Linked DNA regions of Homo sapiens: region 1 is linked to region 2. Evidence: fine-mapped expression QTL. A gene starts in region 2. The other region holds a variant in brackets. All regions are shown on one strand. Distances are between the middles of the regions. Region 1 holds the start of LOC124904623 (a long non-coding RNA gene). Region 2 holds the start of SH2D3A (SH2 domain containing 3A).

What was found. PIP is the estimated chance that this variant, and not a neighbour inherited with it, causes the effect.
Region 1: its variant is fine-mapped to the expression of SH2D3A in left ventricle (GTEx, PIP above 0.99). The same link has a PIP of 0.9 or more in fibroblasts.

Annotation. Positions count from the first base shown.
Region 1 is chr19:6,740,960-6,752,399 of GRCh38, forward strand. TRIP10 (thyroid hormone receptor interactor 10) reads left to right here. Exons shown (of 15, transcript NM_001288962.2): 2 at 51-166; 3 at 266-322; 4 at 2,008-2,155; 5 at 2,235-2,297; 6 at 2,535-2,639; 7 at 2,749-2,877; 8 at 3,595-3,741; 9 at 3,841-4,035; 10 at 5,070-5,237; 11 at 5,493-5,602; 12 at 8,975-9,107; 13 at 9,333-9,472; 14 at 9,553-9,674; 15 at 10,104-10,571. The coding sequence ends at 10,252. LOC124904623 (a long non-coding RNA gene) reads right to left here and starts at 7,628. Exons shown (of 2, transcript XR_007067109.1): 1 at 7,492-7,628; 2 at 7,205-7,397. SH2D3A (SH2 domain containing 3A) reads right to left here. Exons shown (of 10, transcript NM_005490.3): 10 at 11,201-11,440. RefSeq lists enhancers at 1,813-2,732, 4,784-5,284. The variant T/C (reference allele first, on the strand shown) is at 4,135.
Region 2 is chr19:6,756,937-6,771,688 of GRCh38, forward strand. It overlaps SH2D3A (SH2 domain containing 3A), which reads right to left and starts at 10,499. Exons shown (of 10, transcript NM_005490.3): 1 at 10,451-10,499; 2 at 6,744-6,880; 3 at 3,702-4,051; 4 at 2,658-2,734. The coding sequence starts at 6,812. RefSeq lists enhancers at 3,894-4,394, 7,989-8,889 and a silencer at 10,978-11,037.

The DNA.
Region 1 (11,440 bases), 18 kb before region 2:
ATCGTGACCCCGGCCCCTCTCCCCTCCTCCCCCACCATGTCCCATGTCAGGATCAGTTCGAGGTGCTCGAGCGCCACACGCAGTGGGGGCTGGACCTGTTGGACAGATATGTAAAGTTCGTGAAAGAACGCACCGAAGTGGAACAGGCTTACGCCAAACAACTGCGGTGAGACCCTGGGGTGGACGCTACGGAGGACGCGCCTGGGGCGACGGGGAGCGGTGGGAGGGCTGCGGGCTCAGCCCTCCTACCTCTGTCTCCCCTTAGGAGCCTGGTGAAAAAATATCTGCCCAAGAGACCTGCCAAGGATGATCCTGAGTCCAAGTAAGGTTGGAGAGGGGCTGCAGGGCTAGATTTGTGGGGAAAGGCGGTGCTTGGGTCTCACTTCCCCTCCCTCAGCTGGGACACCCCACCGCTCCTCTCACTTCCCCTTCTAGAGGTGAGAGCATGGATGCAAGATGCGGGATTATCTGGCTTGGAATCCTGAGTCCACTACTATGTAGAGAAATTGACTTGGGCTTGTGACTCAGGTTTTCTGCCACTATTTTCCTTAACTGTTAAATACAGAGGCCCCAGCAGTTACAAAACCAGTAACTTTGGGCAGATGACTTAAAGTTTTGCGCCTCTGTTTTCCTCATCTGTGAAATGGAATGATGACGATTCCTCCAGCTTTGTAGGGCTTTCATGAACACGAGCTGAGTGAATGTGTTTAAACAGTGTGCAGTCCATATCAAACGCCGTAAGGAGCATTTGACTTGGAATTGAGTCCCCAATTCCAAAATCCAAAAAAGCCCTGGAAATCAAGTTGTTTTGGTCACTTGTTTGGCAGCAATCTCTGACCTGAACTTTTTGTTAATTGTAGTTGTTTTGTTTTGTTTTTGACAGAGTTTCACTCTGTCCCCCAGGCTGGAGTGCAGTGGCGCCATCTCAGCTCACTGCAACTTCCGCCTCCCAGGTTCAAGCGATTCTCCTGCCTCAGCCTCCCTAGTAGCTGGGATTACAGTCACCTGCCACCATGCCCAGCTAATTTTTATATTTTTAGTAGAGACAGGGTTTCACCATGTTAGCCAGGCTGGTAATTGTAGTTTTGACTTTTATCCCACTTAGTGTGAATGTTAACACCTCTCATTGTAAAATTAAAAAAAAAAATAGGGTTGGGCACAGTGGCTCACACCTGTAATCCCACACATTGGGAGGGTGCGCAGGTGGATCACTTGAGGTCAGGAGTTCGAGAGCAGCCTGGTCAACATGGTGAAACCTTGTCTCTTCTAAAAATACAAAAATTAGCCAGGCGTTGTGGTGCGCGCCTGTAATCCCAGCTACTCAGGAGGCTGAGGCATGAGAATCGCTTGAACCCGGGAGGCGGAGGTTGCAGTGAGCCAAGATCGCACCACTGCACTCCAGCCTGGGCGACAGAGTGAGACTCTGTCTCCAAAACAAATAGATACGGTGTTTGATTACAAAATGATGTCCCCAACCCCACTAAGATGATGCAGAAAAGATGGTATAAGCTTTGTACACCATCTTTAAAAACTGGAAAATTCTGTGTTCCAATATACATTCGAGGTCCAGTGCGGTGGCTCACACCTGTACTCCCAGCACTTTGGGAGGGTGAGGCGGGAAGATGCGGAGTTCGGGGGGATTGGAGTTTGAGACCTCATCTGGAAAAAAAAAATTAGCCAGGTGTGGTGGCGTGTGCCTGTGGTCCCAGCTATTTGGGAGCCTGAGGTGGGAGGATCACTTGAGCCCAGGAGTTTGAGGCTGCAGTGAGACGCAATCATGCCGCTGCACTGCAGCCTGGGTGACAGCAAGACCCTGTCTCAAAAAAAAAAAAAAAAAAAATCTACTCAAGGGTTGGGGTTAAGGAATATGGACCAGAATTTGTCATCGCTTCAGGGATTACATTCTTGGGGCTTAACCCTTTTCCACCTGGAGGTGCGTCCTGGGGCATCAGCCTGCTCGGGAGGAGGGGCCTGACTCCCTGTTCCCCGATTCTCATCCAACCCCAGATTCAGCCAGCAACAGTCCTTCGTACAGATTCTCCAGGAGGTGAATGACTTTGCAGGCCAGCGGGAGCTGGTGGCTGAGAACCTCAGTGTCCGTGTATGTCTTGAGCTGACCAAGTACTCACAAGAGATGAAACAGGAGAGGAAGATGGTGAGGAGCCCCCCGATTCAGGTTTTACAAAGGGCTTCTGCTGGAACCCTGGCGAGCCTTATCACTCTTCTTTCTGTAGCACTTCCAAGAAGGGCGGCGGGCCCAGCAGCAGCTGGAAAATGGCTTTAAACAGCTGGAGAATGTGAGTTTGCAGAGGTAGCAGTGACTGTGGCCCGGAGGCATGGGGGCAGGGTTGCGGATCCGGAGTCAGGGAGCTGCCCTCTTTGTCAGACCTGGACCTTCCCTCCCCCATAGGCTTCCAGTACTCCCTTGACCCCTACTTACTGGATGACATCCCAATAATCCCTGAAACCTTGGTTTCCCACCCTGCTGTCTTTGGGATGGTGGCTCCCTCACTCCGGTTCTGTCCCCTACACAGAGTAAGCGTAAATTTGAGCGGGACTGCCGGGAGGCAGAGAAGGCAGCCCAGACTGCTGAACGGCTAGACCAGGATATCAACGCCACCAAGGCTGATGTGGAGAAGGTGTGTGTGGCGGGGGCGGGGGGGGGGTGCGGGGTCTGGGACAAGCTTGGGGAGTCCGAGTGGGACGTGATCGGAACCTGGCAGTACCTTCCACCTCTGCATTCTTCAGGCCAAGCAGCAAGCCCACCTTCGGAGTCACATGGCCGAAGAAAGCAAAAACGAATATGCGGCTCAACTGCAGCGCTTCAACCGAGACCAAGCCCACTTCTATTTTTCACAGATGCCCCAGATATTCGATGTGAGTGCTCCCAGTTCTCAGACCTACCTTCCCGAAAGCCTCCAAATGTTAGCCAACTCCTACGCATTCATCAAAACCCCAGCTGCAATGTCCCAGTCCCTAGATTGAAAGGGAATCAGAAACCTATAGTAACAGTGAGCTGTGCTTTTAGTCAGCTGTTCTTCCTGCTGGGCATGCCTTTTACTTGTTTGTTTATTTACTTCTATAGAGAGATGGGGCCTGGCTCTGTCACCCGGGCAGGAGTGCAGTGGCATAATCACAGCTCACTGCAGCCTGGAACCCCTGTGCTCAAGTGACCTTTCTTTCTTTTTGAAATTCCTACTTATTCTTCTAAGCTCCACCTCTAACAACCCCTCTGAAAGGTCTCGAATTTCCCCTCTCCTGTTTCAATCTAGCGCTCCACTCTCTGTCCCATCCGTGGCCCTGGGAGTATCAGGGCTGGTTCTGCTTTTTCTTCAAATCCCTGTTCCCTTGTCTCCTCCTTTGAGAAGCCTTTGCTGACCCCCTAGGCACGCGTCCCCCTCTGAGATCCCCCTGGCCCTGTGTCTCTTCCCCAACCACAGTGGGCTGGAGTCTCTCTTCCCGACTCTGTCTTCCCCTCCAGACTGGCTTGGGGCTGGGGCCAGCGTGGAGCGCGATCATATTTGCAGAGTGAATCACTGTGCTTCTAGTCCCTCTGTTAGCACCCCTGAGCCACCCTTGTCCCTGTCCTTACAGAAGCTCCAAGACATGGATGAACGCAGGGCCACCCGCCTGGGTGCCGGGTATGGGCTCCTGTCGGAGGCCGAGCTGGAGGTGGTGCCCATAATAGCCAAGTGCTTGGAGGGCATGAAGGTGGCTGCAAATGCTGTGGATCCCAAGAACGTGGGTGCCTGGTCTGGGTCCACTGGGCTACGGGAAGGGCAGAGGGAGGTACCCATAGGCTAGGCACTCGACTGCTCATCCACTGTCCCCCTCCCCCAGGACTCCCACGTCCTTATAGAGCTGCACAAGTCAGGTTTTGCCCGCCCGGGCGACGTGGAATTCGAGGACTTCAGCCAGCCCATGAACCGTGCACCCTCCGACAGCAGTCTGGGCACCCCCTCGGATGGACGGCCTGAACTCCGAGGCCCGGGTCGCAGCCGCACCAAGCGCTGGCCTTTTGGCAAGAAGAACAAGGTGGGGGCCGGGACCCTTGGGATGGTGGGGGAGAAGGACAGTGAAGTGGGGACAGTGGGGCCCCTATTGAGTCAGCCCCAGCCGCCTGAACGCCGAGTC[T/C]CGGGCAGGAATTTTCCTCTTGGCTGCCAGCCCGGACTGGAGGGAAGGAAGGCGGCCGATTGGCCTGGGAGTCCCCCGAGGCGAAGGCGGGGGCAGGGTGGGGAGGTGGGGAGGTCCGTGGCGTTTGTCTGCTGCTTCTCGGGATGCTGGGAGAAAACCTGCTGGTGGAATTCAGGGCTGGCCTGAGGGCTGGTGACACCATCCCTGGGGACTCCCCGAGTTTCTCTCTCCATCCTGCTGATGGGACTCTGGGAGCCGCCCTGCATGTCTTGCTTTCTTGGGTTTTTGGATTTTAATATACCTTAGCACCCTTGGTTTATACCTTTGATTTATACTTTGGGTCCCTCTTCACTTACACTCTCATACCTCTCCTTGACTTAACACCTGTGATCCCCGAGCTTAAACTTCTGATGCCCCTAACCCCTCTCATTTTCCTGCCTTCCACTCCCTCTCGGCTTGTGGTTTTATTTTTGTTTATTTATTTTTGTCCTCTGTGGCCTCTTACCTGTCTGAGACCTTGATTCCTGCATGCGTCTTCTAGACTGTCAGCCCAGAAAGCTAAGTGGACAGAGAGACATGGGCCTCCCTGCCTCCTGGACCCATGCTTGCTCCCGGACATAACATTCCAGAGACCTAGGAGATACCGGGGGAGTGAGAGTTCTGGCTTTCGGGCTTACAGTTCAACATCCTCCCCGCCACCTTCCAGATTTTTTTGTGTCGCTCCTGCATGCGTTTTCTCTGTGTGGTTGTGCATCTTGAGTTGTGGTTTTCTTACCGTTTTTTTTCTTTCTCCATTTTGTTTTTCCTTTTTCCTTTTTTTGCGTCCATCCGTCCATCCGTGCGTCCATCCCTCCGTCCATTCGTCCTCACTCTCTACATCCTCCTATGCCCCCCCACCCCTTCAACCTATCCCCCTCCCCGGCCCCCGCCGGTAGCCTCGCCCCCCACCCCTCTCCCCCCTGGGGGGCCCCGTACCCTCGGCATTGCCTAACGGACCCCCGTCCCCCCGCTCCGGCCGTGACCCCTTGGCCATACTGAGCGAGATCAGTAAGTCGGTCAAACCGAGGCTAGCATCCTTCCGCAGCCTTCGAGGCAGCCGTGGGGTAAGTGAGGCCTCGGGGCAGGAGGAGGTGGTGGCCCTAGCCTGCCCAGCGGCGGGTGGCGGGACCCTGGGCTCGCTTCCTGCCGCTGGCTGGGCCCCTCTTCCCTGGTTGCCCAACCCAGACCTGCTTTGCTCTGTGCATGGCTTCGCTGTCAAGAACCATGGCTGGGGAAGGGAGTGAAATATCTCAGACGGGTGCAGAGTCTGGCAGGCTAGACTCCTTGATCCCAAATTCAGCCCTCTACCCACCTTGCAGACAGTGGTGACCGAGGATTTTAGCCACTTGCCCCCAGAGCAGCAGCGAAAACGGCTTCAACAGCAGTTGGAAGAACGCAGTCGTGAACTTCAGAAGGAGGTTGACCAGAGGTAAGGTGGTGGGGTAGGGAAGGACAGGCAAGGAACATGATAAAATAGTAAATGAACTTCACTTATTTGTTTATTATTTTATTTTATTTATTTTATTATATTTTATTTTGTGACAGGGTCTTAGTCTGTCGTCCAGGCTGGAGTGCAGTGCTGTGATCTTAGCTCACTGCAATCGCCACATCCCAGGTTCAAGCAATTCTTGTGCCTCAGCCTGCCGATTAGCTAGGACCACAGGCATGCACCAGCTAATTTTTATATTTTTAGTAGAGGCGGGGTTTCCCCATATTAGCCAGGCTGTCTTGAACTCCTGGCCTCAGTTGATCTGCCTGCCTCAGCCTCCCATAGTGCTGGGATTATAGGCATGAGCCACTGCCCGGGTCTGTAAATGAATGACATTTAAATGGTACTCAAAGATCTCCCCAATAATCCCAAGGCCCCGACGGTTTTACAGGTGATTCCTACCACACTTAGTTACTTCTTGGCCAGGTGCAGTGGCCTGTGCCTGCAATCCCAGCATTTTGGGAGGTTGAGGCAGGAGGATCATCTGAGCCTAGGAGTTTGAGACCTGCCTGGGCAACAGAGTGAGACCCCATTTCTAGCAAAAATAAAAAAATTAGCTGGGTGTGGTGGTTTGTGTCTGTAGTCCCAGCCACTTGGGAGGCTGAGGTGGGAGGATGGCTTAAGCCTGGGAAATGGAGACTACAGTGAGCTGTGACTGCACCACTTGCACTTCAGCCTGGGTGTCAGAGTGAGACCCTGTCTCAAAAAGAAAAAAAGAAACAGTTACTTCTTGTCTTATACAAGTCATTCCAGCAAACAGAAAAAGTGTGAAAGCTGTCAACCTCTTTAGGCTGAAGAATCCTGATTCCCAAATCTGTGGCCAAGAATTCAATAAGATAAAATTAAGGGCTCATTTTACCTTATTTATGATCATAGAGGCAAAATCCTAGCCAAGCAAATCCAGTGTTTAAAAAATAATACATCACTTTGGGAGGCCAAGGAGGGCAGATCACGTGAGGTCAGGAGTTCGAGACCAGCCTGACCAACATGGTGAAACCCCGTCTCTACTAAAAATACAAAAACTAGCTGGGCATTGTGGCACGCGCCTGTAATTCCAGCTACTCGGGAGGCTGAGGTGGGAGAATCGCTTGAACCTGGGAGGCGGAGGTTGCAGTGAGTCAAGACTGCACCACTGCACTCCAGCCTGGGTAACACAGCGAGTCTCTACCTCAAATAATAATAATAATAATAATAATACATTAGCCGAGCACAGTGGCTCATGCCTATAAGCCCAGCACTTTGGGAGGCTGGGTAGAAGGATCACTCACTTGAGCCTAGGAGTTCAAGGCCAGCCTGGGCAACGTAGTAAAACCCCATCTCTTAGAAGAAGAAGAAGAAAAACCCAAGTAAATTTTTTTAAAAACTAAAAAAAAAAAAATCCACCATTGGTTGGGTTTTATCCCAATAATGCAAAGATAGTTCAATATCAAAAAATGTATCCATCTAGTTCACCACATTAATTGGCTAAAAGAAAAGCAGCATATGGTTATCTATTTAATAGCTCAAACACTTAAAATATTGACAATAAAAAAATCTGGCAGATTAAAAAAAAAATCTTTACTCACTCTTTCCAGGCAACAAAATCCTCTTCCCAGTTCTGTTACATAATAGGAATGATGTTTGCCACTTGCAAACAGGCAGCCAAATTATATTTTGCCATTTGCATGTAACCTCTTGGACAGAATGGCTTTTATTGGTGTAAAGTTCCATTCAGAACTCTCTAGTTCCTGAGTTTCTACGGTGGAGGGGTTAAGGGTGCATGTTCTAGAGTCACGACAAACTGGACTTGATTTCCAGCTTCATCTCAGGACTTGGGCAGCCTGTTTTACCTTTTAATTCCTCAGTTTCTTCATCTGTAAAGTGGATCAGGTATTAGAACTGGAATGAAGTTGGCAGGGTGCAGTGGTTTATGCCTGTAATCCAAGCACTTTGGGAGGCCGAGGCAGGCAGATGGCTTGAGACCGAGTTTGAGACCAGCTTGGCCAACATATGGAAATCCTGTCTCTACTAAAAATATAAAAATTAGCCAGGCGTGGTGGCGTGTGCCTGTAGTCCCAGCTACTCCAGAGGCTGAGGCACGAGAATCACTTGATCCCGGGAGGCACAGGTTGCTGTGAGCCGAGATTGCGCCACTGCATTCCAGCCTGGGCGACAGAGTGAGACTGTGTCTCAAAAAAAGATAAAAAATAACTGGAAGGAAGTTGAGCTCAGATCTGGTCTTTTCCAAAGGTCCATTATAGTCGTGACTACCTGTATATATAGACATAGGGGAGACAGGGATGAGAAACTGATGATAATGATAACAGTATTTATTAGTCACTTACTGCATTCTAGGCACTATTCGAAACAGTGTACATGGATTTATTCGAATTTTCAAGGTTTCCTGAGAGATTGTATGCAGACTTAAGATCTGTCTTGTTTAGTGTTATATTTATCTTTATTTATTTTTTCCCCTGCCCCCCCTTCTTTTTTTATTTTTTAAAAATTATTTTGATTTTTTACTAGAGACAAAGTCTCACACCATTGCCCAGGCTGGTCTTGAACTCCTGGCCTCAAGTGATCCTTCCACCTCAGCCTCCCAAAATAATGCTGGGATTACAGATGTGAGCCACCACGGCCAGCCCAGTGTTATATTTCTGATGCTTGGAATAGGACCTGTATGCAGTAGGTACTCAATATGTATATGAGTAATAGTGAGGACTTACTAGGTATCAGGCATTGTATTAATCCTCACAGTGACCCACATGAGATATTAGGATCATTATCTCCATTTCCAAAATAAGCAAACAGCAGTGGGGGTTCAATGATTTAAGCCAAGCTCACACAGCTAGGAAATATTCAAACTGAGATTCGAACCCAGGCAGTCGGGCACTAGTATTTGCATCCTTAACCATTGTCCTGCCTTGCTATTTGCTCCTTGATGCAAAACCCCTGTTTTTTGCTTGTTAAATCACATGGAGCCCGGTGCTGTGGCTCATGCCTGTAATCCCAGCACTTTGGGAGGCTGAGCCAGGAGGATCCCTTGAACTCAGCCTGGGCAACATAGCCAGACCCCATCTCTACTAAAAATTTTTGAAAAATCAGGCGAGTGTGGTGATGCGGGTCTATAGTCCCAGTTACTCAGGAGGCTGAGGCAGGAGTATCACTTGAGCCCGGGAGGTTAAGGTTGCAGTGAGCCATGATTGCACCACTGCACACCAGCCTGGGGAAAGAGTCAGAATGAGACCCTGACTCAAACAAAACAAAACAACAGCAACAAAAAAACTCACACGGAAGTATGTTTTCCTGTCTATCCTGTCTCCCTTGTCATAGGGAAGCCCTAAAGAAAATGAAGGATGTCTATGAGAAGACACCTCAGATGGGGGACCCCGCCAGCTTGGAGCCCCAGATCGCTGAAACCCTGAGCAACATTGAACGGCTGAAATTGGAAGTGCAGAAGTATGAGGTCAGGAAAGACCCTGGGGAGGGGCGGGAGCCAGCGGGCCTGGCTGAGTCACTGCTGGGTGGGGTGGGGGGTCGGGGACAGGGGAGGTGTTCGGAGCGGGGGGTCTCCAGCTGTTTTCCATCACAGCCTTGGCTGTGCGTGGGTGATCTCAGGGAACCTCTGGGTCCAAAGTGGGCTGACCCCGGAGCTCTGCCCTGGAACGATTTTCCTGTCCCCTCCTCCCAGGCGTGGCTGGCAGAAGCTGAAAGTCGAGTCCTTAGCAACCGGGGAGACAGCCTGAGCCGGCACGCCCGGCCTCCCGACCCCCCCGCTAGCGCCCCGCCAGACAGCAGCAGCAACAGCGCATCACAGGACACCAAGGAGAGGTGAGGGGTGACGTCAGAGTGGGTCTGTTCCCAGGGTCCCAGGAGGGCCTGTCTTTATCTGCCGAATTATCCCCAAACAGCTCTGAAGAGCCTCCCTCAGAAGAGAGCCAGGACACCCCCATTTACACGGAGTTTGATGAGGATTTCGAGGAGGAACCCACATCCCCCATAGGTCACTGTGTGGCCATCTACCACTTTGAAGGTGAGAACGGCCAGAGTGGGCTTGGCGGGGTATGGGAGGCAGTGTCTCTGGCTAGGTTCAGTTTAAATTCGCCTAAAGCAGGGCTGGGCGGGTGGCTCAGGCTTGTAATCCCAGCACTTTGGGAAGCTGAGGCAGGCAGATCACTTGAGGTCAAGAATTCCATACCAGCCTGGCGAACACGGTGAAACCCCATCTCTACTGAAAGTACAAAAATTAGCCAGGTGTGGTGGCGCACGCCTGTGATCCCAGCTACTCGGGAGGCTGAGGCAGGAGAATCCCTTGAACCTGGAGGCAGAGGTTGCAGGGAGCCAAGATCCGTGCCACTGCACTCCAGCCTGGGCGAGAGCGAGGCTCTGTCTCAAAAATAAAAAATAAAAATAATAAATTTTGCCTAAAGCAGATCTGGGCCCACCCCCACCCCCATCACAGGGTCCAGCGAGGGCACTATCTCTATGGCCGAGGGTGAAGACCTCAGTCTTATGGAAGAAGACAAAGGGGACGGCTGGACCCGGGTCAGGCGGAAAGAGGGAGGCGAGGGCTACGTGCCCACCTCCTACCTCCGAGTCACGCTCAATTGAACCCTGCCAGAGACGGGAAGAGGGGGGCTGTCGGCTGCTGCTTCTGGGCCACGGGGAGCCCCAGGACCTATGCACTTTATTTCTGACCCCGTGGCTTCGGCTGAGACCTGTGTAACCTGCTGCCCCCTCCACCCCCAACCCAGTCCTACCTGTCACACCGGACGGACCCGCTGTGCCTTCTACCATCGTTCCACCATTGATGTACATACTCATGTTTTACATCTTTTCTTTCTGCCGCTCGGCTCCGGCCATTTTGTTTTATACAAAAATGGGAAAAAAAAAAAAGAAATTATATAAAGTTCCTAGAGTCGGTGTCTTATTAGAGGATTTAAATACTGGGACTGGAAGTATCTAACACCACGTTTCTTACAGGCCACACAGGGAATGAGGAAGGGGAGGTGATCTTGGGCACACCTTGGGTCAACCCTGCCCCTTTCTGGAAGTTGGCCTATGTCATTGTCAGTGGGTGTCTGCTTGTGACTCAGGTAGGGAGAAGGATACCAAGTTTCTTTTTTTTTTCTTTTTGAGACAGTCTCACCCAGTTGCCCAGGCTGGAGTGCAGTGGCGTACGTGATCTCAGCTCACTGCAGACTCCATCTCCCGAGTTCAAGCAATTCTGCCTCAGCCTCCCAAGTAGCTGGGATTACAGGCACACACCATCATGCCCAGCTAATTTTTGTATTTTTTGTAGAGACAGGGTTTTGCCATGTTGGCCAGGCTGGTCTTGAACTCCTGACCTCAAGTGATCCATCTGCCTCGGCCTCCTAAAGTGCTGGGATTATGGCGTGAGCCACCGCACCTGGCCAGGACACCCAAGTTTCATCCCTTCTGAATGCACTGCAGCTTCTGAGAATGGGTAGCACTTATTGAAGACCTACTGTGTGCCAGGCATTCTCCACCTGGGGTCTCATTCCTGGCCACAATTCTTAGAAAGTACACAGCCTCAACTTTTACATTTTTTAAAAGTTTTTTATTTTTCAGTTTTTGTAGAGATGAGGTCTCACCATGTTGCCCTGGCTGGTCTTGAACTCCTGGCCTCAAGCCTTCCTTCCGCCTCGGCCTCCCAAAGTGCTGAGATTACAGGCCTGAGCTGCTGTATGGCTATGATTTTGTTAAAGGCCGACACAGAGGTGAAGTCAACTGCTAGAAATCACGGCTTTTAAGAGGTGGAGTCACATTTGAACTCTG
Region 2 (14,752 bases):
CTCGGCTTATTGCAACCTCTGCCTCCCGGGTTCAAGTGATTCTCCTGCTTCAGCCTCCCGAGTAGCTGGGACCACAGGCGCCACCACACCCAGCTAATTTTTGTATTTTTAGTAGACACGGGGTTTCACCATGTTGGCCAGGATGGTCTTGATCTCTTGACCTCGTGATCCGCCCGCTTTGGCCTCCCAAAGTGCTGGGATTACAGGCTTGTAATTTCTGGACTATTAGTACTTAAAACTGTACTAAGACTTTTGGGAGACTGTATTTACCATGCCTTTGAATAGGCTCAACCTGCACATTCTGCACGTGTATCTTTTTTTTTTTTTTTTTAAGAAGAAATTGAGCCATTGCACCCAGCCCTTTCTTTTCTTCTTCTTTTTTTTTTTTTTTTTAAATTTGAGTCAGGGTCTCACTCTGTGGCCCAGGCTGGAGTGCAATGGTGCGATCACGGCTCACTGCAGCCTTGACTTTCTGGGTTCAAGGAGTCCTCCTGCTTCAACCTCCCAAGTGGCTAGGACCACAGGCGTGCAACACCACACCCAGCTACCCACTCATTTTTTGGTTGAATGAACAGCTTAAATTCTTGTTCTGACCCAAGAGCCTTTGCACTGCCTCTTCCTCCTGCCTGCTTATCCCCCAGTTATCCACCTGTTCCCTCCCTCATTTCCTTCAATTTTATTTTTTTCTGCAATGGGGCCTTTCCTGACTACCACTTAAAATTGCTTGCTTGGGTACAATGGCTCACGCCTGTAATCCCAGCACTTTGGGAGGTTGAGGTGGGTGGATCACCTGAGGTCAGGAGTTCGAGACCAGCCTGACCAACATGGGGAAACCCCATCTCCACTAAAAATACAAAATTAGCAGGGCGTGGTGCACATGCCTGTAATCCCAGCTACTCGGGAGGCTGAGGCAGGAGAATCACTTGAACCCAGGAGGTGGAGGTTGCAGTGAGCCGGTATCACGCCATTGCACTCCATCCTGGGCAACAAGAGCAAAACTCTATCTCAAAAATAAATAAATAAATAGAAATAAAATAAAATTGCAATATACATCTCCATCTTTATAGTCTCTATCTCCCTTACTCTGTTTTTTTTGTTTTGTTTTGTTTTTGTTTTTTCGGTTTTTTTGAGACAGTCTCACTCTGTCCCAAGTAGCTTGGATTACAGGCATATGCCACTACACCTGGCTAATTTTTGTATTTTATTTTATTTTATTTTTTTTTAGTAGAGATGGGTTTTCACCATGTTGGCCAGGCTGGTCTCGAACTCCTGACCTCAAGTGATCCGCCCACCTTGGCCTCCCAAAGTGCTAGGATTACAGACCTGAGCCACCTCACCCTTCCCTTACTGTTTTTTGTTTGTTTGTTTGTTTTTTGAGACAGAGTCTCACTCTGTTGTCCAGGCTGGAGTGCAGTGGTGCAATCTTGGCTCACGGCAACCTCTGCCTCCCGGGTTCAAGCAATTCTCGTGCCTCAGCCTCCCGAGTCTCCCGAGTAGCTGGGATTACAGGTGTGTACCACCACGCCCGGCTAATTTTTGTAGTTTTAGTAGAGACGGGGTTTCGCCATGTTGGCCAGGCTGGTCTCGAACTCCTGACTTTAGGTGATCCGCCCGCCTTGGCCTTCCAAAGTGCTGGGATTACAGGCCTGAGCCACTGTGCCTGGCCTTCCCTTCCTGTGTTTTAATTTTCATCTTGAAGCAAACAAAATTGCCTTATTTTTGTGGTTCATGGTTTGTTGTCCTCTCGTGGACTGTTGGCTCCCATCGGGCAGGGATCTTTGTCTCTTTCTGGTTTGTTGATGTATCCTAGCACTCCGTGCAGGGCCTGGGATGCAGGGACGGCTCATGTTGAATGGGGTTGGGAGAAGGATGGGAAAAAAGGGGCATGAGGGGGCATTCAGGTGAGTCCTCCTTTAGGTAAGACCGTCAGACTCAACTGCTTTGAGGAACTTACCCTGGATGGAGAGGAGCCACTCAGGAAAAAATTAGGGGAATGAGAATGTTCCCGTCACTGGTGGAAATGTAAAATGCAAAGGCCCCGAGGCGGGAATAAAAGCCTGAGGGTTCGAACAACTGCAAGGAGGGCTGTGTGACCAGCATGAGGAGGGTACGTAGCAGAAGTTGTTAGCAAGGTAAGCTGTGGTCAGAACAGGTACAGCTCCTTGGAATAATTGTAAACACTTTTTTTTTTTTTTGAGATGGAGTTTTGTTCTGTCACCCAGTCTGGAGTGCGGTAGCGCCATCTCGGCTCACTGCAACCTCCACCTCCCAGGTTCAAGCGATTCTCCTGCCGCAGCCTCCAGAGTAGCTGGGATTACAGGTGCGTGCCACCACGCTCGGCTAATTTTGTGTTTTTAGTGGAGATGGGGTTTCACCATGTTGGCAAGGCTGGTCTCGAATTCCTGACCTCAAGTGATCCACCGGCCTCGGCCTCCCAAAGTGCTGGGATTACAGGCATGAGCCACCGCGCTCAGCCTTGTAAACACACATTTTAAGCACCCACAAAGTCCCTGCATGTTTTAAGTCATCGTGATTGTCATCATTTTCTAAAGCAAGAAATTGAGGCTCGAAGAGGTGCCTGCACCTGACCAAGATCTCTTAGGTGGTGAGTGGCAGAGCCAATCCCTGAGCCACAGGCCATTCTAGCAGACACTTACCCATCCCAGCGGGGTCTTCTCTTGACCGCCCCATATGTGCCAAATCTGCAGGCTGACTGTTGCTCCACTTCCTTGCCCTGGGGGACAGAAGTGGGAGAAACCTGTAGTCCCCACCTAAGCAGTGTCCCCCACCAATATCTGCAAAACCCTGTGTCCAGTTACTCTGTACCAGTGAGTCTCAACCAATCAAGGTGACCTACGTCCAGGGGACTCTTAGCAACGTGTGGAGACATCTTTAGTTGTCACAACTAGTAGCATCTAGTTGGATGGAGCTCAGGAATGCTGCTCAGCACCCTATGATGCACAGGACATCTCCACCTCCTCCCCCACAACTAAGAATGTTCGGGCCTCAAAAGTCAACCAAGGCCGGGTGCGGTGGCTCACACCTGTAATCCCAGCACTATGGGAGGCTGAGGCGGGCGGTCACGTGAGGTCAAAAGTTCAAGACCAGCCAGGCCAACATGGTGAAACCCTGTCTCTACTAAAAATACAAAAAATTAGCCAGGCGTGGTGGCTCATGCCTGTAATCCCAGCACTTTGGGAGGCCGAGGCGGGTGGATCACTTGAGGTCAGGAGTTTGAGACCAGCCTGGCCAACATGGTGAAACCCCGTCTCTACTAAAAATACAAAAAATTAGCCAGGCATGGTGGTGCACGCCTGTAATCCCAGCTACTCGGGAAGCTGAGACAGGAGAATTGCTTGAACCCGGGAGGCGGAGGTTGCAGTGGGCTGAGATCGTGCCATTGCACTCCAGCCTGGGCAACAGAGTGAGACTTCGACTCCAGAGAAAAATAAAAAATAAAAAAGTAAAAAAATTAGCTGGGCGTGGTGGTGCACTCCTGTAATCCCAGCTACTCTGGAGGCTGAGGCAGGAGAATCGCTTGAACCTGAGAGGTGGAGGTTGCAGTGAGCTGAAATCATGCCACTGCACTCCAGCCTGGGCAACAGAGTGAGACTCAGTCAAAAAAAAAAAAAGTCAACCATTGAGTTGGAAAACCCTGCGAGTGTTGGGTGTTCTCAAGGAGGCAGGGAGACTGTGAGTACCTGAGAGGCTCTATCCGAGCTGGGCCATCCATCAGGGTGTCCTCGCTAAAGCTGCGTCGCAGAGGCCCCTGCCAAGTCACAGGCCTGGAGACCACAGCCCCTGTGGCCTGGGACAGTGGGCGCCTGCCTGTCATATAACTGTGAACCAGAGCCGGTATGCTGGGGAATTGCTCATCCTCCAGTTGAAAGAGGGCTGTGGGTCGGCCTGGCCGGGGACGCAGGGCCACACGGAACACCTCAAAATGGAGGGCTGAGCCCCGCCAGCGGCAGGAGATCACGGGGTTGCCCCCACGGGACCCAGAGGCGCGAACCAGGAAGTCGCCATTTTGCTGAAGAAGAGCTTCAGCCTTCTGTGGATGAAGTTCAGGGGGCAGGGGAATTAGGAATGAGTCCAGGGCAGTGGTTAATGGTAGCTCCCCCCACCATTGCCCCCACCACCCAAGAAAAGCTACCCCAGTGAAACTTCTGTGGCAGGCAAAGACGGGGAACTTTCACACCAAGTTCTGTCCCCCTTTCTCCTGGCACCTACGTAGACTACATTTCCCAGGTTCCCTTGCGGCTAGGGTTGTCATGTGATGAGAACTGGCCAATGGGATGTGGGGTAGAAGGGCTATGGGAAATATCCAGACCTGGCGCATAAAACCCTGCTGCACAATCTTATAGGTTGTGTCCCCTGTCTGTCAGCTGATATCCCCCAAAGCCCAGAGGGATGACAGAGCTACAAGATGCACTTGGCTCCCAACTGATTTATGGAGCTTTGCATCTCTGCTTCTCAACCACCTTGGACTATGACATTAACATGTTGACTGTGTTTAGCTGGTGATATCTTGGGAATGTTTGTTACAGCCACTAGCTGATGCTGACCAATGCAACATCTAATTTGGTAAATGCACTGTGCTTGTTATGCAAATGTGGCTTCAAGAGAAGCCATTAGCTGGATGCTTCCAGATTGGGGCCCCCTCTTTTATAAACATTTGCAAGCAGTCTTATGCCAGCTGTGGTGGCTGGTGTCAAAATAGGGTAGGAAGGGTGGGGCACAGTGGCTCACACCTGTAATCCCAGCACTTTGGGAGGCTGAGGTAGGCAGATCACTTGAGATCAGGAGTTTGAGACCAGCCTGGGCAACATGGCAAAACCCTGTCTCTACCAAAAAATATAAAAATTAGCTGAGCGTGGTGGTGTGCACCTGTCATTCCAGCTACTCAGGAGGCTGAGGTGGGAGAATCGCTTGAACCCAGGAGGCAGAGGTTGCAGTGAGCCGAGATGGAGCCATTGCACTCCAGCATGGGTGACAGAGTGAGATCATGTCTCAAAAACAAAAAAAAAACAAAAAAAAAAACAAAAAAAAGGCTTGGGGAGGCAGGTAGAAGGGCCAGGACCCCAGAGAGAGGCAAAGTAGAGCTGAACATGGGGTCTGGGGACTAAATAATAGATGTAGCAGACACACGTGTGTAGCCCTTACTATATGTCAAGCACTGCTTTAAATGTAAAGGGTGTTAACTCTTGTAATTCCTGTAACAAGGGTGGTAGGTATTATTATACCTTTTTTTGTTGTTGTTCTTTGGGACGGAGTTTCACTCTTGTTGCTCAGGCTGGAGTGCAATGGCACAATCTCGGCTCACTGCAACCTCTGCCTCCTGGGTTCAAGCGATTCTGCTGTCTCAGCCTCCCGAGTAGCTGGGATTACAGGTGCATGCCACCATGCCTGGCTACTTTTTTGTATTTTTAGTAGAGAGGGGGTTTCATCATATAGGTCAGGCTGGTCTCGAACTCCTGACTTCAGGTGATCTACCCACCTCGGCCTCCCAAAGTGCTAGGATTACAGGCATGAGTCACCATGCCCGGCCCATTTTTTTCTTCCGGCCTTTTTTTTTTTTTTTTTTTTTTGAGTCAAGGTCTCTCTCGATTGCCCAGGCTGAGTGCAGTGGAGCACTCATGGCTCACTCACAGCCTTGACCTCCTGGGCTTAAGCAATCCTCCCATCTCAGCCTCCTGAGTAGTTGGGACAACAGGTACATGCCACCCATGCCTGGATAATTTTCGCTTTTTTTTTTTTTTTTGTGTAGAGACAGAGTTCTGCTATGTTGCCCAGACTGGTTTGGAACTCCTGACCTCAAGTGATCCTCCTGCCTCAGCCTCCCAAAGTGCTGGGATTACAGGCATGAGCCAACATGCCTGGCCTGCTATCCCTATGTTAAAGATCGGGAGACTGAGGCCCAGAGAGGTCAAATGTCCTGCCCAAGGTCACATACAATATAAATTGTAGGGTTTGGATTTGAACCTAGGGTGTCTGGGTCTCAATTATGGGATTTTAACTATTAAGTTCTACTGCCTCTCATGATTTCATGAGATGCTCAGGGTCCCAGAATTTTTGGGGGTGACAACTGAGTTTCAGATGGAGGTGGGAGCCTCAGATTTATTTGTTTGTTTATTTATTTATGTTTTTGACAGAGTCTCGCTCTGTTACCCAGTCTGGAGTGCAGTGGCACAATTGTGGCTCACTACAACCTCTGCCTCCTGGGTTCAAGAGATTCTCCTGCCTCAGCCTCCCAAGTAGCTGAGACTACAGGCGCATACCACCATGTCTGGCTAATTTTTGTATTTTTATTAGAGATGGGGTTTCACAATGTTGGCCAGGCTGGTCTTGAACTCCTGACTTCAAGTGATCCGCCCACCTCGGCCTTTCAAACTGTTGGGATTACAGGCGTGAGCCACCATGCCTGGCTTGGGAGCCTCACATTTAGAGGGAAATACCAGGAGGTAGATGGAGTTCAGAGGGAGAGACGGCCAGAGCCAAGAGTAGTTTGGGGGCATTAGGACTCTCCTTAAGCTCCATCACCAATCTCATCATCCCAAAGAAAGTGATAATTTAAATATAGTGACAGTCCCCAGCCAGCCAACCTTCAAGACAGTCCCCAGCCCTCTGCCACCTGTCCCAATAGACCTTGGCACTAAGTCCCTCATCCAGGGACCCAGGAATCCTCAGCAAGGGTGGGAGAGGCTCCCCACCAGATGGTGCTGAGGTCCTGCTGTGGGTGGTACCTGGCGGGACAGGAGGCCGTGGTACCAAGGTTGGCCAGCAAGGTCTTCTCCATCCTGTGGCACCTGCATGGAGCTCTTGGGAACAGAGGGTGCCAGGGCTGAGCTCTGCACTTTCAACAGGCCTCAGTCTTCCACATCTGTAAAAGGGGAATAATTAGCCCTGCTTGAGTGTCTGGGTCAGCTCCTTTCATCCTCTTCTTAATTTTGGAGACAGCTCCATCAAATCTTTTTTTTTTTTTTTTTTTTTTTTTGAGACAGAGTCTCATTCTATCACCCAGGCTGGAGTGCAATGGTGCGATCTTGGCTCACTGCAACCTCTGCCTCCCAGATTCAAGCGATTCTCCTGCCTCAGCCTCCCAAGTAGCTGGGATTACAGGCATGCACCACCACACCCAGCTAATGTTTTTTCTTTTTTTATATTTGTAGTAGAGACAGGGTTTCACTGTGTTCGCCAGGCTGGTCTTGAACTCCTGACCTCAGGTGATCCACCTGCCTCAGCCTCCCAAAGTGCTGGGATTACAGGCATAAGCCACTGCACGCAGACTTTTTTTTTTACATTTAAAGAGAGAGGTCTTATGTGTTGCCCAGGCTGGAGTGCAGTGCTATTCACAGGTGTGATCATAGCACACTTTAGCCTTGAATTCCTGGGCTCAAGGAATCCTCTAGCCTCAGCCTCCCAAGTAGTTGGGATTACAGATGTCACCATCGTGCCTGTTCCAAATATAATGCAATCGAAGAAAAAAAAAATGGCTGAAGATGACAACATGCCACCCCATCTTGCAGAAATGTAATTAATGAATTCACTGAACCCCTATTTATTCAGCACCTTATGGGGTCCCAGGCTCTGTTCTAGGCCCTAGAGACATAGCATTGAACAAAACAGATGGAAATCTCTGTCCTTGGGAGCTGACATTCTACTGGGGAGCAGCACCTCAGAAAAGAACTAGATGATGGCATACATGAGTGAGTGCTAGACAAAAAAACTAAACCATGGATGGGATATAATGAAAGTACAGGTGCTAGGGTGAACACTCTTTTTTTTTTGAGACAGAGTCTTGCTTTATTGCCCAGGCTGGACTGCAGTGGTGCAATCACAGCTCATTGCGGCCTTGACCTCCTGGGCTCAAGTGATTCTCCCACCTCATCCTTCTGAGTAGCTGGGACTATGAGCGTGGGCCACTGTACCTGGCTAATTTTTTTTTTTTTTTTTTTTTTTGAGATCAAGTCTCACTCTGTTGCCCAGGCTGGAGTGCAGTGGCATGATCTCAGTTCATTGCAACTTCCGCCTGCTGGTTTCAAGCAATTCTCGTGCATCGGCCTCCTCAGTAGCTGGGACTACAGGTGTGTGCCACCATGCCTGGCTAATTTTTAAAATATTTTTAATAGAGATGGGGTTTCTCCATGTTGGCCAGGCTGGTCTCGAACTCCTGACCTCAGGTGATCCACCCTCCTCAGCCTCCCAAAGCACTGGGATTACCAGCATGAGCCACTGCGTCTGGCTGTGCCTGGCTAATTTTTAAATATATATGTAGAGATTGGGTCTTGCCACGTTGCCCAGGCTGGGTGAACATTTTTGATCATGTGACCAGGAAAGGTCTCATTGAGTAAAGTCTGGAAGGAATTCTGGGGAGTGTGCCAGGTGACTCTGGGTGAAAAAACATCCCAGTCAGGGGGAATTTAACTTACAAACATCCATGGCTTCTCGGCAACCTATGCGCACACTCAGAGGTTCTCAGGATAGGTGCAGATCTAACCCCTATTCTTTGCTTTAGAATGCAACGCTGGGGGCCAGGCGCGGTGGCTCACTCTTGTAATCCTAGCACTTTGGGAGGCAGAGGTGGGTGGATCATCTGAGGTCAGGAGTTTGAGACCAGCCTGGTCAACACAGTGAAACCCCGTCTCTACTAAAAATACAAAAATTAGCCAGGCATGGTGGCGTGTGCCTGTAGTCCCAGCTACTCAGGAGGCTGAGGAGAGAGAATCGCTTGAATCCAGGAGGCAGACCCTGCAGTGAACCGAGATCACACCACTGCACTCCAGCCTGGGTGACAGAGCAAGACTCCGTCTCAAAAAAAAAAAAAAAAAAAAGAATGTAACCCCAGGGTTAAGATTTTTAAAAGGTCACATTTTGTAGCAATGTCAGCAAACAGCAATGTTGCCTTTGCAGATCCTTCTATTTCGGAGCCCATACATGTGGTTATCATGATGATTGAATTTGGATCTCAGACATTTTGGTAGTTTCCCGATAATCTCACAGGCCTCAGGGCCAGTGTGTCTCAGGTGTCTGGTGGGGGAGATTTCTCTGGATGGTCCAGAAGAAGATAATCTGCTTCTTACTCTCCTGCAAGCTCTCCCTGCAGCCCTGCAAAGTCTTCTGGTGGGGTCTGCAGAGAAATTCCTGCCTCCTGAGTCAGCAGGAAGTTCCCAGACCAGCCCTAGGTGGCTTTAGGGGAGGAGCGCTGGGCAGGGAGCCAGCTGCCAGTGCCGCATACCTGAAGCCAGGTGTGTCTTTGCAATGCCTGCGCACTTCCTGTTTGTCACCTGGACCAGGGCTAGCCTCGGTCGCAGAGTTTCCCAACCCCAAGTTCCTGTCTTGTGTCTCCCTTAGTGAGAGTGAAGTTGAGTCAATGGCAAGGTTCTGGTTAGTTTGAGGACACAGGGTGGCCATAGGTCAGCCAAAGGCCAACTAAGCCATCTCCTGCCTCTGAGTCCTTTGGGATCATTTATTCGGGCACGGAAGAGAAGAAACGGGCAGAATCAGGAATCAGACCAAGCATAGAGAGAGGAGAGAGGGGATTATTCATGTTCCAGTTGGATCATAAACATGTGTCCACGTGTGGGGAGGACGTGGAGGGTGGGAACCACCAGCACAGGCAACACAAACACAGATGTAGGCAGGACTCGCTTTTGACGTTGGACGACCATTGCTGGAGCACTTGCTGTGCACCAGGCTCTGTTCTAGGACCTAGAGATACAGTGACTAAGGAGATTAAAGCTCGGCACCACCCTGCCCTCCAGAGCTTGCAGTCGGCTGCGCAAGACAGACTGCAAACGAGCACAAGATGAATGGAGAAGACAGACCATTTCTAAGAGTTATCAATGAAAGTGATAAGCCAGGGAGATGTGATAGAGGAGGCTGGACAGGACAGCCTCTCCTATAAAGTGACATTGGAACTGAGACCTCAGTACAGAAGGAGGCAGTTAGGCAAAGATTTGGAGGAGTCGCCTGGGTGAGGGGTACAGTAAGGGTAAAGGCCTGGAGCTGAGATGGACTTGCTTTTTACATTTTACATCATCAAGGCGGCTGGTGTAGCCGGAATACGATGAGGAAGGAGTAGATAGGAGGGCAATGAGGTTGGAGAGATCAGGAGGAGAGACTAGGCAAAAACTAGTGGACTTTGAATTTTAATCTCTATGACCCAAGGGTTTTAAGTGAAGGAGGGGCCCGATCTGATTCGCCGTTTAAGAGGATCACTCAGGCAAAAATGGAAACAATGGCTTTCTGTGCTGCACAGGAAATACACTTAGAGAGGCACGCCCAGGTGAGCCCGAGCACACCGACACGCGTAACGCACAGCGACCCTCTCATTCGCGAGGCGACCTCTTCTACCCCAGATCCTCCCTGCGAGCCGGTGACCCCACCTGGAAAGAGAGGACTCCCCATCCCAATAATCCTGGTTCTGGATCTGCCCTGGGGCTCCACTCACCTGGGCAGGACCCGCGGGGCTCCCACGAGGCTGGGTCCAGGCGGAAGCTGAGGCTCCGCGGCTCCGGGCTGCTGTCACCCCCGCCCTCCACCTTGCCACCGCCCCAGCCTTCCCAGACCACACCTAGTGGGAACTCAGCCCAGTTACCTGACCACACCTCCTGCAGACCCCGCCCCCTGCGGGCCCCGCCTCAAACTAACTTCCCAGGCCCTTGCTCCGCCCCCTTAAAACCATTTTTTTTGCTACTAGCCACGCCTCCTTCTGCATCGCACCGCTTTCTCCATAGACCCCGCCCACTAGGGGAGCACCACGCATCCTTTCCTGCCAGTGGCCCCTCCCCTTGTATATAGCCACGACCACCGCCGAATGACTACGCCCACCCGCAGCCACCTCCTTCTCAGCCCCGCCCCTTAGGGCAATAGAAGAAATTTCATCCCAACGTTCCCGCCCCTTAGAACCCTGCCCCTCCCTTCCACCCAGGCGGCCCCAAGCACCCATGGCCCTTTGGGACCAGGGCGGGGTGGAGTGGGGTGCCTCTCTCCCCTCCCCGCCAAGGCTCCGGGTCAGGGCAGGGCAACTCCCTCGGGCTCTTACGCCAGGCTGGGGTAGCTGCGGCAGCTGTGACGTAAGGAGGGGTACGCTTCCTCCAGACCGCCCTCCCGGATTTTCCGGAAAGAAGCCCCATTTAGGTGGCGGGTTTTGTGGAGAGACGTCCGGGAAAACGCGACAGCTTCCTTCAGTGACAGCACGCTGGAGCGGGGCGGGACTTTGGTGGAGGTGGAAGGCAAATCATTCAGGTGGTTTCCCAGGTGGGAAGAAGGGTGGGGGGGACTTCCATCGTGATGCCTGGAGACGAACAAGAGAAAAGGTGACAGGGACCTAGTGCAAGAGAGAGGACTCTTTGGCCACGTTTATTGATGAGTTCCTCATATTAACATCAGTCTTGTCTTGTAGAGACAGGGTCTTGCTATATTGCCCAGGCCGGAGTGCAGTGGTGATCATAGCTCACTGTAGCCTCAACCTCCTGGGCTTAAGCTATCCTCCCGCTTCAGCCTTCCAAGCAGCTGAGACTAAAGGTGCACACCACCACACCCAGCTGATTTTATTTTATTTTTTGTAGATGTGGCGTCTTACTATGCTGCCCAGGCTCTGGAACTCCTGGGCTCATGCGAACTTCCTGCCTTGGCCTCCCAGAGCGCTGAGATTACAAGCAAGCATGAACCACTGTGCTTGGCCCCAGTAACCACAGTCTTAAAAGCAGTAGCAGCAGCTAACATTTATTGAGCACTTACTGTACACAAGGGCTGTTCTGTCAACTTGCCTTTATTTTATTTTATTTTATTTTTTGAGATGGAGTTTCACTCTCGTTGCCCAGACTGGAGTGCAGTGGCAGCAGTCTCAGCTCACTGCAACCTCCACCTCCCCGGTTCAAGCGATTCTCCGGCTGTAGACTCCCGAGTAGCTGGGATTACAGGCTAATTTTTGTATTTTTAGTAGAGATGGGGTCTCGGCCAGACTGGTCTCAAACTCCTGACCTCATGTGATCCACCTGCCTCGGCCTCCCAAAGTGCTGGGGTTACAGGCATGAGGCCTCTATTTTAATTTTCAAACAGACCACCCTGTAAGGGTGGTAGGTAGTATTTTCATCACTTCCATTTTCCAGATGGAGAAACTGAGGCACAGGGCAACTAAACCATTTGCCCAAGTTAACCTGGCTTGTAAGTGGTAGAGGCGAAATTCAAACCCGGAGCTCTGGAGCTTTATCCTGTCTGCCTCCTTTTCAATCTTCGCATGCCCACTTTCTCCACGATGCTGCTTTGCGGTGAAAGTTACTCACCCACCATTTTACAGATGAGGAAATTGAGGCCTAGAGGGCCAACGATGCTTGGGGATGAAAAGTTTTGATGCCTGTAGGTTGCAAAGCAGGGAATTTCCAGACTGGGCTCCCCCGACTGGCCCTGGCAAATATGGAAGAGACTCCAGGCTCAAGAGGGGAAGAAAGTTTCTTCCTTATCCCTCACCGGTCTGGTATTGGTACAGTCAGAGGGTAGGGGCATGTTCAGGGAAGGGGTCTAGCGCCTCCTCGTGGTTATAATAATTTAAAAAGAGGGCCCAGCACTTTGGGAGGCCGAGGTGGGCAGATCACCTGAGGTCAGGAGTTCCAGACCAGCCTGACCAACATGGTGAAACCCTGTCTCCACTAAATACAAAATTAGCTGGGTGTGGTGGAATGCACCTGTAATCCCAGCTACTGGGGAGGCTGAGGAAGGAGAATCACTTGAACCTGGGAGGCGGAGGTTGCTGTGAGCAGATTAGCTGTGTGTGGTGGCATGCACCTGTAATCCCGGCTACTAGGGAGGCTGAGGAAGGAGAATCACTTGAACCTGGGAGGCAGAGGTTGCTGTGGGCAGAGATTGCACCATTGCACTCTAGCCTGGGCAACCAGAGTGAAACTTTCTCCTAAGAATAATAATAACGATAATTTAAAAAGAAACTCCATGATGAGGGCCACGTATTAGGTGGACGGGGGAGGGCCTGCTTACACTCTACTGGGGTGGAAGCTAGGGATGGGGGCAGAGAGACCTAATCTCATGAAGATGATTTCAGCTAATGATAAGGTAATGGCCGGGAAGCCAGTAAATGTTTGTTGAATGAGTTAATGAAAGACACTATTGGGCCTGGCACAGTGGCTCGTGCCTGTAATCCCAGCACTTTGGGAGGCTGAGGCAGGTGGATCACTTGAGGCCAGGAGTTTGAGACCAGCCTGGGCCACATGGCGAAACCCTGTCTCTACTGAAAATACAAAAATTTAGCCACGCATGGTGACACCTATAATCCCAGCTACTCGGGAGGCTGAGGCAGGAGAATCACTTGAATCTGGGAGGCAGAGGTTGCAATGAGCCGAGATTGCGCCACTACACTCCAGCCTGGTCCATAGAGCAAGACAAAAAAAAAAAAAAAAAAAGACACTATTGTAGTCTATAAGGAGAGGGATGATGGTGGCTTGGATTTGGGTGGTGACCATGGACATGGTGATAAAGGGATGGATTTGGGATAAATGTCAGGTGCAGTCAATAGAGCTTTCAATTATTTATTCATTCAACAGGTATTTAAGGGGCATGCCTATGTGTCAGGTGCTGCATAAGAGAGGGGTCAGTAGTGAACCAAAGAAACATAAATTCTTGAACAGACAATAAAGAAACAATGATGAGCGGGTGCCATGGCCCACGTCTGTAATCCCAGTACTTTGGGAAGCCGAGGTGGGAGGATTGCTTGAGGCCAGGAGTTCAAGACCAGCCTGGGCAACATAGTAAAAGCCCCTCTCTGCAAAAAAATTTAAAATTAGCCAGGCACAGTGGCACAAGCCTGTAGTTCCAGCTACTTGGGAGGCTGAGGCGGGAGGATCACTTGAGCCCAGGAGTTTGAGGCTGCAGTGAGCTATGATCATGCCACTGAACTCCAGCCTGGATGACAGAAGAAAGAGCCTGGGCACAGTGACTCAAGCCTGTAATCCCAGCACTTTGGAAGACCAAGGCGGGCAGATCACTTGAGGTCAGGAGTTTGAGACCAGCCTGGCCAACATGCTGAAACCCTGTCTCTGTGAAAATACAAAAATTACCTGGGCATGGTGGCAGGTGCCAGTAATCCCAGCTGCCTGGGAGGCTGAGGTCAGGGAAAACCTGGGAGGCAGAGCTTGCAGTGAGCTGAGATCATGCCACTGCACTCCAGCCTGGGTGACAGAATGAGACCCTGTCAAAAAAAAAAAAAAAAAAAAAAAAAAAAAGCCGGGCGCGGTGGCTCACGCCTGTAATCCCAGCACTTTGGGAGGCTGAGGCAGGTGGATCACCTGAGGTCAGGAGTTCGAGACCAGCCTGACCAACATGGAGAAACCCTGTCTCTACTAAAAATACAAAATTAGCTGGGCGTGGTGATGCATGCCCGTAATCTCAGCTACTTGGGAAGCTGAGACAGGAGAATCGCTTGAACCCAGGAGGCAGAGGTTGTGGTGAGCTGATCACACCACTGCACTCTAGCCTGGGCAACGAGAGTGAAACTCCGTCTCAAAAGAAAAAAAAAGAAGAAAGAAGCCTGGCGCGGTGGCTCACGCCTGTAATCCCAGCACTTTGGGAGGCTGAGGCGGGCGGATCATGAGATCGGGAGATCGAGACCACGATGAAACCCTGTCTCTACTAAAAATACAAAAAATTAGCCAGACGCGGTGGCGGACGCCTGTAGTCCCAGCTACTCAGGAGGCTGAGGCAGGAGAATGGCGTGAACCCGGGAAGCGGAGCTTGCAGTGAA